Regions from separate parts of the Homo sapiens genome. Here region 2 is linked to region 1. Evidence: fine-mapped QTL for protein levels in blood plasma. A gene starts in region 1. The other region holds a variant in brackets. All regions are shown on one strand. Distances are from middle to middle. Region 1 holds the start of SCGB3A1 (secretoglobin family 3A member 1). Region 2 overlaps FLT4 (fms related receptor tyrosine kinase 4).

The links. PIP is the chance, under the fine-mapping model, that this variant and not a neighbour inherited with it causes the effect. Protein levels are from antibody-based Olink assays in UK Biobank. Linkage for the fine-mapping came from a reference panel and not from the study's own genotypes, which makes the PIPs less certain.
Region 2: its variant is fine-mapped to the plasma level of the SCGB3A1 protein (UK Biobank, PIP above 0.99).

Annotation. Positions count from the first base shown.
Region 1 is chr5:180,589,393-180,597,904 of GRCh38, reverse strand. SCGB3A1 (secretoglobin family 3A member 1) reads left to right here and starts at 6,406. Exons shown (of 3, transcript NM_052863.3): 1 at 6,406-6,494; 2 at 7,067-7,305; 3 at 7,651-7,800. The coding sequence starts at 6,443. The coding sequence ends at 7,674. LOC124901154 (a long non-coding RNA gene) reads right to left here and starts at 4,735. Exons shown (of 2, transcript XR_007059088.1): 1 at 4,696-4,735; 2 at 3,637-4,012. RefSeq lists a silencer at 1,021-1,192 and enhancers at 6,205-6,874, 6,875-7,544, 7,545-8,214.
Region 2 is chr5:180,619,547-180,622,522 of GRCh38, reverse strand. It overlaps FLT4 (fms related receptor tyrosine kinase 4), which reads left to right. Exons shown (of 30, transcript NM_182925.5): 13 at 619-981; 14 at 1,271-1,417; 15 at 1,516-1,647; 16 at 1,808-1,914; 17 at 2,215-2,350; 18 at 2,754-2,858. Among named protein-coding and RNA genes, the nearest start is that of FLT4, 29 kb to the left of the region's middle. RefSeq lists an enhancer at 1,493-2,692. The variant A/G (reference allele first, on the strand shown) is at 2,111.

The DNA of each region.
Region 1 (8,512 bases):
TGGAATGGTATTGGGGTGGGGAGGACAGGGAGTGCTGCTGGGCACACAGAGGTGTGGAGCCCTGCCCAGGGTCACCTCCTGAATCCCTGCCAGCACCCCTTCCTCAGCCTCCTTCCTCACTGAACAGACTGAAGCAGGGAAGTGGGACCTAATGAGACACGATGTTTCCTCTGCTGCTGCTGCTGTGGCCAGCACGGTCCTTGGAGCAGTGGGGTGAAGCCTCACGGGAGGGCCCTGGGGATAGCACCAGCGCTTGTGTGCCTGGGCCCAAATTGGTATCGGAGGTTTGGCACTGCTGGCTGCCAGCCTGTCACTCCAAGGAGGACAACTCTAAAAAATGGGAGCTGAGAGGCCGGGCGCGGTGGCTCACGCCTGTAATCCCAGCACTTTGGGAGGCCGAGGCAGGCAGATCACGAGGTCAGGAGATCGAGACCATCCTGGCTAACACGATGAAACCCTGGCTGTACTGAAAATACAAAAATTAGGCGGGCATGGTGTCGGGCGCCTGTAATCCCAGCTACTCAGAAGGCTGAGGCAGGAGAATCGCTTGAACTTGGGGTCAGAGGTTGCAGTGAGCCGAGATTGCACCACTGCACTCCACCTTGGGCAACAGAGCAAGACTCCATCTCAAAAAAAAAAAAAGGAGCTGAGAGATGGCAGGGAAGAATGAGGTATGAGGTCCTGGTGACATCCTTTGAGCCTGGATCAACCTTTCCCTGAAGGCGGAGCCACTCCTGGAATTTCAGTCTTTGCTTAAAGCCACGTGGGTCAGCTTTTCTGTCACTTTCACCAATGCCCTGAACCCACAAGGCAGGAACCACATCGACAGCACCTGCTCCCCTCCGCACAGCAGGGCCCTGTGGGTGGGAGTGCCGACAGGGAAGGGGCAAAAGGAAGTGGCTGAGAGCCAGATCAATATTGACCCAGGGACGGTGCCACAGAGGGCGCTCGGATATGCTCACGACACTGCCCAGTGCCCGAGGGCCCACGGGGCTGAGCTATGAGGAAAGAGGACGCGGGCTGAGGAGGGGGTGCTGAGCGCCCCAGGGCCCACGGGGCCGAGCCATGAGGAGGGAGGACGGGGGCTGAGGAGGGGGTGCTGAGCGCCCCAGGGCCCACGGGGCCGAGCCAAACCACTTCCTACTGGCGCAGGAGAAAGCCCAGAGTGCCTGCTGGGACTGGCCGAGGTGCCTGTCCTTGTGGGGCCCACTCAGGGCGGTGTGGAGGGTCGCTGCTGCTGGCCGCTGTGGTGGCCCTGGCCAGGAGCCCCCACAAGTCCCTTGAAAAAGGGTCCCAGGACCATCGGGAAACTCAGGGTGCCGGCTGACACCACCAGGGCTGCCCACCGGTCCCCACCTTCGAGTAGGAAAGTTTGCTCAGAAGGAGTGAGGAAGGGGGCCTCGGGGCCGGGGTCCAGCGCCTGCGGCCTTTGGCTCTAGACATAAAAAGAAGAGCAGCTTCTATTGGAACAGCACCACAGACCCCTCCCAAAGCCCCAGATCATTCTAGCATGGAGGGCTAACCTAACCAGGGCCCAGCCACCAGGACACCACCTGACAGCCAGCTGCTATCCCAGGAGAGCAGAGGTGGGCAGAGAGGGGCCCCAGAAAACTCCGGCAATGAACAGTCACCAAGATGCCTGCTCTGGCGGGGAGCTGCACTCACCTGCCCAGGTGACCACATCAGAGAGGCATGGGTATCCGGAGTTCAACCCAGTTTGCTTAATAATTTATGTACTCAAGGCATTAGGAAGAGAGGGCACCAGAGAAAGAGGGATATCAAAGAGAGGGGGCATCACAGAGAGCAGGGGCCTCAGAGAGAGAGGACATCAGAGAGAGAATGGGGACATGGTGGGGGCATCAGAGTGGGCATCTGCCACCTGAACAGCCCTCCACAGGTGTCTGCGGAAGCACCGCCAAAGCGTGGGCCGGGCGGAGGCACCGTGAGCCTCTAGGCTCCCCAGCAGGAGCACCCAGGGGCTGAGTACCCTGCTCCGAGGCCCTGAGGTCTTTCAATAGGCCCCAAATTCAATATCTGGCCCCTTCCCCAGAGCCGCAAAGTGCTTGTTTACCTTCCAGCTCTTCCTGCATTCCGTGGGAGTGGGCAAGGTGTGCGTGTTTATTTTGGCCCAAAAGATGCCCTGCAAACACTGCCCAGAACAAGCTGACCGTGTCGTCTGCAGACAGCGCCAAGCACTTTCTCAGTGTCTCGGCAGACCTGAGCCAGCAAGGGCCGCAAGCAGGAGTGGCAGGGAAGGCCCAGGCTGACGAGAGGGCGCTGCCCACCCGCCCCTGTCCCATGCCGGGCGGACTCTGACACCCACCCTGGAAGCCTCACCTGGCCTGGCCTTCAAGGGGCAGGGCAGCACTTGGAGGGCATGGCAGGCCCCAGGTCCGTCCACACCCCAGCTCCTGGAACCTTGGAATGTTAGGCTCAGCAGGCACGGTCTCGGCAGCCCGACTGGGGGCGTCATTGTGAGATGAGGGGACTGTCCTGGGTTATCTAGGTGAGCCCTAAATGCAACAACACACACACTCATAAGATGGCGGCAGAATTTTCACACTCACACACACCCACACTCACACACACATTCACACACACTTGCACACAATTCAAACACATGCATATCCACACACTCCCTCCCACACACTCCCTCCCACACTCTCCCTCCCACACAGACTGACTCACGCTTATCCACACACACACTTGTACACACATTCACACTCAAACACACCCACAAGCTCACACCCACTCACTCTCCTTCACATGCACATTCTCATTCACTGTCCATCTTACACACTTGCATGCATATTCACTCTCACCCCTCCACACACACACCCCCACACATCCCCACACCCACACACACCCACACATGAACCCTCACACACACCCACATACACACCCACACATACACACCCTCACACACACCCCACACACACTCACACACCCACACATACCCTCACACACCCTCACACACACCCATACCCTCTCACTCCCACACACCCACACACGAACCCTCACACACCCACACACACCCCCACACACACCCACACACCCACACACACCCACACACCGACAAACCCTCACACACACACCCCACGCACCCTCACACACACACCCACACACACAGAAGAGGAGGAGGCCATGTGACCAGGAGGCAGAGACTGGAGTGATGCAGTCACCAGCCAAGGGGCCCTGGCAGCCCCCATAAGCAGGGAGAGGCCAGGAGTGGATAAGCTCCTGGGAAGGCCCAGCCTCTGGAGGAGGAGCGGCCCCCGACGCCTCGCCTTCACCCCCGTGACACTGCACTTCTGGGCTCCAGAACTGCGAGCGGAGTAAATGTGTTGTTTTCAGCCACCAGGTATGTGGTGACTTGTCACAGCAGCCTCAGGAAATGAATACAGAGGCAGCCGCTGACCCAGCTGTGCAGGTCTCGGCACAGGCCAGACCCTCGGCCTGCCTGATCCCCAACTACCGCAGAGGCTTCGCCAGCCGTGGCCCCCAGAGCCAGTGTGGGGTGAGGGGCTGGGCCAGCCTGAGGTGAGTCCTGGCTTGCCTTGACCATGGCAGCTCGGGAGAGGAGAGCACATCCTTTGGCCCTGTCAGTGGTGAAACGGAGACACCGTGACACACTTCTCCGGGGAGCCAGGGGATGTATTTTTGGAATCCGAAATCTTGGGGCACATGGGAATGAGGGCCTGTCACCACCCTGCAGGCTTGTGGGAAATGGGAACAGATCCACCCAAGGCACTATGAGCCGGAAGGTGGAGGGAGGTTATTTTGAAGACAAAGGATCCCTGGAGGCAGGTGCAAGGGGCCGCTGGAGTGGCCAGGACCCCAAGCGCTGCTGGGGACCCACAGATGACGGCCTCCCCCTCCTCCTGGCCTCGGCAGCATCGGTCTTTCCCGCGGTCAGTGTTCTCTGGTCCCCAGGCAGCATGGGGAAAGGTGGCCCCAAAGTCAGCTCCCAAGATGCGCCCACTGGGATTGCTTGGGCCAAGGCTGCCAGATCCTGCTCAGGAGAAGAACAAGCATCATGAGGTTGTGGACACACTGGGATCCTTGTGCATTGTTGCTGGGAAGGCAGCGTGGTGCCGCTGCTATGGGAGAGATGGCAGATCCTCACAAATGACACAGGCAAGTTCCACAGGCTCCAGCCATTCTACCTCTGAGCAGCCACCCAAAACAGCCAACAGCAGGGTCCCAAAGAGGCATTTGCACAGCCGTGTTCACGGCCGCATTACTCACAGCAGTGAAAACATGCAAGCGCCCACATGTCCACCCACGGGTGAAGTGAATGGGTGAAGAAAACGTGGCACAGCCATGCAATGGAGCAGTATCCTACCCTAAGAAGGAAGGAAACTCTGAAGGTCATGAATGAACCTGGAGGATATCATGCTAAGTGAAATACGCCAGACACAAAAGACAAACACTGCCCGATTCCACTCATATGAGGTGCCGGGAGTGGCCAGATTCAGAGACAGAAAGTGGAATGGTGGTGCCAAGGGCTTGGGGAGGGGAGTGGGGAGTTGTTTAATAGGCTCAGAGTTTCAGTTTTATAAGAGGAAAAGAGTTCTGGAAATGGATTGTGGTGATGTTTGCACAACATTAGAATATACTTAATGCTAATGGAGTGTGCCCTTAAGATGGTGAAGCTGGGCTGTGCGGGGTGGCTCACACGTGTCATCACAGCACCTTGGGAGTCTGAGGCGGGAGGATTGCTTCAGGCCAGGATTTTGAGACCAGCTTGGTCAATGTAGCGAGACCCCATCTCTAGAAAAAATAAAAATAAATCAAGCCAGGCGTGGTGGCTCACACCTGTAATCCCAGCACTTTGGGAGGCTGAGGCAAGAGTATCACTTGAGGCTAAGAGTTCAAGACCAGTCTGGGCAACACAGTGAGACTTTGTCTCTACAAAAAATAAACAAAATTAGCTGGACATAGTGGTGCACACCTATAGCCCCACCTGCTTGGGAGGCTGAGGTGGGAGAATTGCTTGAGCCTGGGAGGTGGAGGCTGCAGTGAACCAAGATCACCTCACTACACTCCAGCCTGGGCGACAGAGTGAGACTGTCTCAAAAAACAAACAAACAAAAAACAAAATCAAAATCCGCTGAGTGTGGTGGCTCACACCTCTAGTCCCAGCTACTTGGGAGTCTGAGGTGGGAGGATTGCTTGAGCTCAGGAGTTCGAGACCAGCCTGGGCAACACGGCAAGACAGTGTCTTTACCACCACCAAAAAAGTAATTAACTTCAAACTGTTTTTAAAAAAGAAAACGTATTTCCCATTAAAATTACTTCCATGATGACCAACAAAACACAACCAAACTCCAGATTTATAATGCAAAAATCCCCCAAACAAAATAGTCAAGGAAAAGTGTAAGTGAACAGAAACAGTGTGAATGCGTGTGCCTGGCCACAACAGTTGGCAAAGGCACAAGTGTCTGCAGGTGCGGAGGAGGCCGCAGTAGCTCGGGGTGGCTGAGGGCTAAGACGTGCTGTCAGCCATAGGGAAGGAATTCCAGGACACTGCCTGAAGAGTCAGGTCCTCCCACCCGGGAGCCTGTTTCCCACGCGTGCCAGCTACACTTTACAAAAGAAAAGAGAGACTTTGCACCAACCTAGCTGAGAGCAGCCACGCAGCAAAACGTGAGTCACTCAGTGCTCAATGCCTGGGGTCAAAAAATAGAGGAAAGAAGAAGGACTAAAAGCAAATTAGTTTATGTATCATTTGCAAAAGTTTTCAAAATGTGCTTTGCTCTCCATCTGTCATACTTCTGCAGGTGACAGACGAGTGAGGACATTTAGAGAAACTCAGGAACAAACCAGGCCCATCCACTGGCGTCGAGGCTAGTTTCGAAGACAGAAAAACGCCCCACTTCTGTTTGCACTGTGGCTGCCTGTGGCCCGGCCGGGGAGGCGGCCGGGAGTGAGGCCTGATCGTCCCTGGCGCCTCCACCTCCCCAGGCGCAGAAGGCGCCCACGAGGACCCCCAGTGCCCGACGTTGCCACGGTCTGGGATCAGAGGCAGGGACCAGGGAGCCAGGAACTGCGCCGCCCCCGCCCCTGCCCTGGCGCGAGGGAAGCTCCCCTCACCCGGGCCCAGCCCTGCAGGGGGGCGCGTGGGGTCAGACCGCAAAGCGAAGGTGCGGGCCGGGGTGGGCCTCGCGGAGACAAAGGCCGGGCCTGCCTGCTCTCAGAGGGCCCCAGCGCCTGCCAAGAGGAAGTCCTCGAGGCCCGGGCAGGGAAGGGGGCACGGGCTTCCCAGGGCCCGCCGGCCGCAGCAGGAAGTTGGCCAGGGCACGGCCGTGAGCGGAGCGGGCAGGGCTTTCTCAGGAGCGCGGGCGAGGCCGGCGCTGGAGGGGCGAGGACCGGGTATAAGAAGCCTCGTGGCCTTGCCCGGGCAGCCGCAGGTTCCCCGCGCGCCCCGAGCCCCCGCGCCATGAAGCTCGCCGCCCTCCTGGGGCTCTGCGTGGCCCTGTCCTGCAGCTCCGGTGAGCGCCCCGGGCTCCTGGCGCGCACGGTGGGGCCTGAGGCCTCGGCGCCCGCTGCGCCCCCGCCGCTGCCTGCGCCGATCGTGGATCCCAGGTCCTTCCAGCCTCGCCCGGCGCCCAGAGGGCTCCGCCACCCCGGGGCCCCGCGCCTGCAGCCCGCGGCCTCCCCCTCTCAGGGCTGTCTCCAGCCTCGTGCCGGGATGGAGGCCGCCCCTGGCCTGGGGACACCCGTCTGCCCCCCGTCTGGAGACCGGCTCCTCATCCTGCAAGGCGCAGCGCGAGTGTCCCCTCCCTTGGGGGCCTGTCCCGGACCCTGCACAGAGTTCACCGGTCCTTCCGCCACCCTCAGGCCACTCCGGTGACCCTGCAGCGTCTCCTGGCGGGGCCGCCTCCCCAGACCCGCCTGTGTCCCGGGGGCTCGCACCTGGCAGGCCTCGGCGCAGGAGGGAGGGGCGGTCGGGGAGCCGGGCAGGGCGCGACGGTTCCTGGGCGCCTCCCGCGGGGGCGCGTCCTGGACCTGCCTTCTGGGGACCCCGGCGCGCAGGCGGTGACCCCTCCCTGTTCGCTTGCAGCTGCTGCTTTCTTAGTGGGCTCGGCCAAGCCTGTGGCCCAGCCTGTCGCTGCGCTGGAGTCGGCGGCGGAGGCCGGGGCCGGGACCCTGGCCAACCCCCTCGGCACCCTCAACCCGCTGAAGCTCCTGCTGAGCAGCCTGGGCATCCCCGTGAACCACCTCATAGAGGGCTCCCAGAAGTGTGTGGCTGAGCTGGGTCCCCAGGCCGTGGGGGCCGTGAAGGCCCTGAAGGCCCTGCTGGTAAAGTGGGCACCCCGGGTGCCCTTCCTGCGCGGGCATCCCTTCCCGGCCAGCCTCAAAACTGCACCAGAGGTGTCCCGGCCCTACGTCAGGGCTGTTTCCCGTCCTGCCCCTCCAAGCCCTGTCCCTGGGAGAAGCCCGGGTCTCCGGGTGGGAACTGGGTGGGGCGCATCCGAGCTGCAGGGGCGGGGAAGGCGGAGATGGCCCCGCGCGGGTGCGCGTCCCCCGGAGACGCCAGCGGAACCGCCCCGCTCCCGCTCCCCACAGAGCCGGCCGCTGCCGCGCCCCCGCCTGAGTTCTTGGTGGCAGGGCTGGGGGCACTCAAGCTCGGCTTCTGCTTTCCAGGGGGCCCTGACAGTGTTTGGCTGAGCCGAGACTGGAGCATCTACACCTGAGGACAAGACGCTGCCCACCCGCGAGGGCTGAAAACCCCGCCGCGGGGAGGACCGTCCATCCCCTTCCCCCGGCCCCTCTCAATAAACGTGGTTAAGAGCAGCTCGAGCCTGGTATTTTCTCATCCAAATGCTGATCCCTGTGGGGGACCGAGAGTGCCAAGTCCCAGATTTTGTGAGGGGTGCTGCGTGAGAGAGGGAGAGAGAGGCCGCGAGAGTCTGCAGGTGGCATAGAGCCAGCAGTGCAAGGTGACAGAGATGGGGCCAGTATCAGAGGTAAACCGGATTTGGAAACAAAACTGGCAGGTCTTTCTTCCTGTTGTGCTCTGTAACTGTTTATGAAGCATAAAAATTATCTACTCCTTGAAGACTGGCGAGAATGCAAACGCACCAAAGCCATTTGTTGCTAAAATTTGAAAGTTTTTATTTTTTCCCTCTATACTTGTAGATTTCTTCCTCGGAATGGGGGAGGAATGAGGGCTTCAGGAAATCCGCTGTTGGGCTTGTTTTCCCTGCAGTTTCTGCTGGTTTTGTCCAAATAACCTAGTGACTTTGATTCCTTCTACTCTAGCGGAGAGACCACCTTTTGTCAACTGATCTAGTGTTGGTGGGAAGGTGCCCAGGGAACCCAGACATCGGTGTCCCTTTCAGGGGAAGCCTCCCAGTTGACTTCCTTGCTGGGATGAATAACTCTGCCTCAGGTGGCTTGAGCAGGTCTTCCCCCCATCATGAATATCCACACGAGATTTTAAAAATTTTTTGATTGGGCACGGTGGCGCACACCTGTAACCCTAGCACTTTGAGAAGCCAAGGCA
Region 2 (2,976 bases), 27 kb before region 1:
CTGGGGCTCCTCCCTCAAGGATGCCCTTGGCTCACTGCAGCTCCTCCTAGCTATACCCACTCCCACCCTCCCCTTCCCAAGCCCTGAGACCTTGTGACTCGTGTGAATTTTGCTCTGGGGAGAAGCTCTGTGGTTTACTCAGATTTTCAAATGTGGTAGTGACCTCAGGAGAGCGGAGCCCAGGAGCAGACGTCACTGGGTCCCAGAATGTAGATCAGGGCACCAGCAGAGAGATGTAGATCAGGGCACCAGCAGAGAGATGGAGCCCAAAAGAACACCCGGGGGCTGGGGGGCCACAGGAGCCTGACCAGAAGTGACCAGAGAGACAAGAGGAAGTGGGCGCACGGCACTGGGAAAAGCCAGGGAACACGTTATTTCAGGCTGAGCATGGGGTGGGGCATGGCAAGCTTCAAGAGAGAATGAGGACTCAAGTCCCACTGAGGGTGACAAGGAACTCCTGATGACCTGGGCTTTTGGTGGGGCGGGGGGCAAGCAGTCCAGCTGGGGCCCCTCCAGGAGAGAGGGAGGGAGGGAGGCAGGAGGAGACCCCGGGGCGGCAGGTGGATGGGGGAGCAAACTCCCAGGGCAGTGCCACAGGGCTTCTTCCTCCCTCCACAGCCATCCCCGACGGCTTCACCATCGAATCCAAGCCATCCGAGGAGCTACTAGAGGGCCAGCCGGTGCTCCTGAGCTGCCAAGCCGACAGCTACAAGTACGAGCATCTGCGCTGGTACCGCCTCAACCTGTCCACGCTGCACGATGCGCACGGGAACCCGCTTCTGCTCGACTGCAAGAACGTGCATCTGTTCGCCACCCCTCTGGCCGCCAGCCTGGAGGAGGTGGCACCTGGGGCGCGCCACGCCACGCTCAGCCTGAGTATCCCCCGCGTCGCGCCCGAGCACGAGGGCCACTATGTGTGCGAAGTGCAAGACCGGCGCAGCCATGACAAGCACTGCCACAAGAAGTACCTGTCGGTGCAGGGTGAGGCTGGCCGCGGGGAGGGCGGGGACGCGCTCTCTTCTAGCAGTAGCTGCCTCTGCCTTTGCCCCGGCGTGGCTCGCCCCTGGGAGGTCTATTCACAGCCCTGGCCTGCAGGAGCTACCCCTCCTGACTATCCGCCGCCCCCTGCGGAGGCGCGCCGCGCTCCTGCCCGGCGCACAACCCCTAAGTCCAGCTTCCAGGGATCCTTTTCTACCTCTGCTCCCAGCCCAAAGAGGGTCCTCCTGCTAAGTGCAGCTCCACTTAGCTCCCTCTCGACCCCTGCCCCCAGCCCTGGAAGCCCCTCGGCTCACGCAGAACTTGACCGACCTCCTGGTGAACGTGAGCGACTCGCTGGAGATGCAGTGCTTGGTGGCCGGAGCGCACGCGCCCAGCATCGTGTGGTACAAAGACGAGAGGCTGCTGGAGGAAAAGTCTGGTAGGGAGGGTGGCCCTGGCGAAGGGCAGGTCCGGAGGCCCGCGAGGCCGACGATCCCAAACCCAGGTGGACCCGCACCTCCACCCCACCCCCTGCAGGAGTCGACTTGGCGGACTCCAACCAGAAGCTGAGCATCCAGCGCGTGCGCGAGGAGGATGCGGGACGCTATCTGTGCAGCGTGTGCAACGCCAAGGGCTGCGTCAACTCCTCCGCCAGCGTGGCCGTGGAAGGTCTGGCCTCAGGCTGCACCCCTCAACTCCCTTCCCGTCCCCAGTTAACGCTTTCTTGTGGCCACCTTGGGCAAGTCGTGGCCACCAGAAGGGGTGCTGCCTGCAGGTGCACGCTCTTACACACACACACACACACGCCGGCCCCTTTCTGCCCACGCAGGCTCCGAGGATAAGGGCAGCATGGAGATCGTGATCCTTGTCGGTACCGGCGTCATCGCTGTCTTCTTCTGGGTCCTCCTCCTCCTCATCTTCTGTAACATGAGGAGGGTGAGTGTCCCTCCCCGCTCCTGATGGAGTCTCTCTCAGGCCTTCCCCACCCTGGCCGCCCCTAAGATAAAGAATAAGGTGCCCGCCCTAGTTCACCTGGCAGCCTTGTTTCCTGGGAAGCCTCCCTGCCCTTCACGCTGGGCTCCAACCCCGCAGAGGTTGTCTGTCTTTTTTTCTGTCCCCTCCTTGACTGAGA[A/G]CCCCGCAGGAAGTGCCATCTGTCCTGGGCAAAGTTCTGCCCAAGCCACAGTGGTATGGCCAAATCAGTGAGCTGCCCCACTCCTCCCTGTCCCCTCCCCGCAGCCGGCCCACGCAGACATCAAGACGGGCTACCTGTCCATCATCATGGACCCCGGGGAGGTGCCTCTGGAGGAGCAATGCGAATACCTGTCCTACGATGCCAGCCAGTGGGAATTCCCCCGAGAGCGGCTGCACCTGGGTGAGGCCAGCACCAGCCTGCCCAACCCACACCTCCTGCCCGACCCACCTGCTGCAGGCCGGAGTGCCTGAATCCCTCCATTTTCAAAACTTGCACCAGGAAGTTCCGCCTGGCCTGACCTGTCCCTGTGGGCGTGGGTACCTAGAACCTCAGCCAGGGTCCCCAGTTCCCAGGCTCCCTGAGGTCACCTGCTGCCACCCTGAGCAGGGTGTATCTGTCACACCTACCCGGGAGGATGCGCGGCCTCCTGTCCACCTCTCCTTGTCTTCCCGCTGTGGCTCCCCACGCTCCTCCTGCTGCCAGGCCTGTCCTCCTGGACCTCTGCACGGGGCTCCCCCGCCGCCCACCTGTCTCCACGCTCACCCCGTACAGCTCACCTGCAACTGGCCCCCTGCCCCGACAGGGAGAGTGCTCGGCTACGGCGCCTTCGGGAAGGTGGTGGAAGCCTCCGCTTTCGGCATCCACAAGGGCAGCAGCTGTGACACCGTGGCCGTGAAAATGCTGAAAGGTGTGGGGTCAGCGGGCGGAAGGGGCAGCCTAGCTGGTGAGGAGCAGCAGCTCGGGGTGGGCCGGTGGGACGGCAACTCGGGAAGGGAGACTGAGGCTGGAAGCCAGTCTCATCCGAG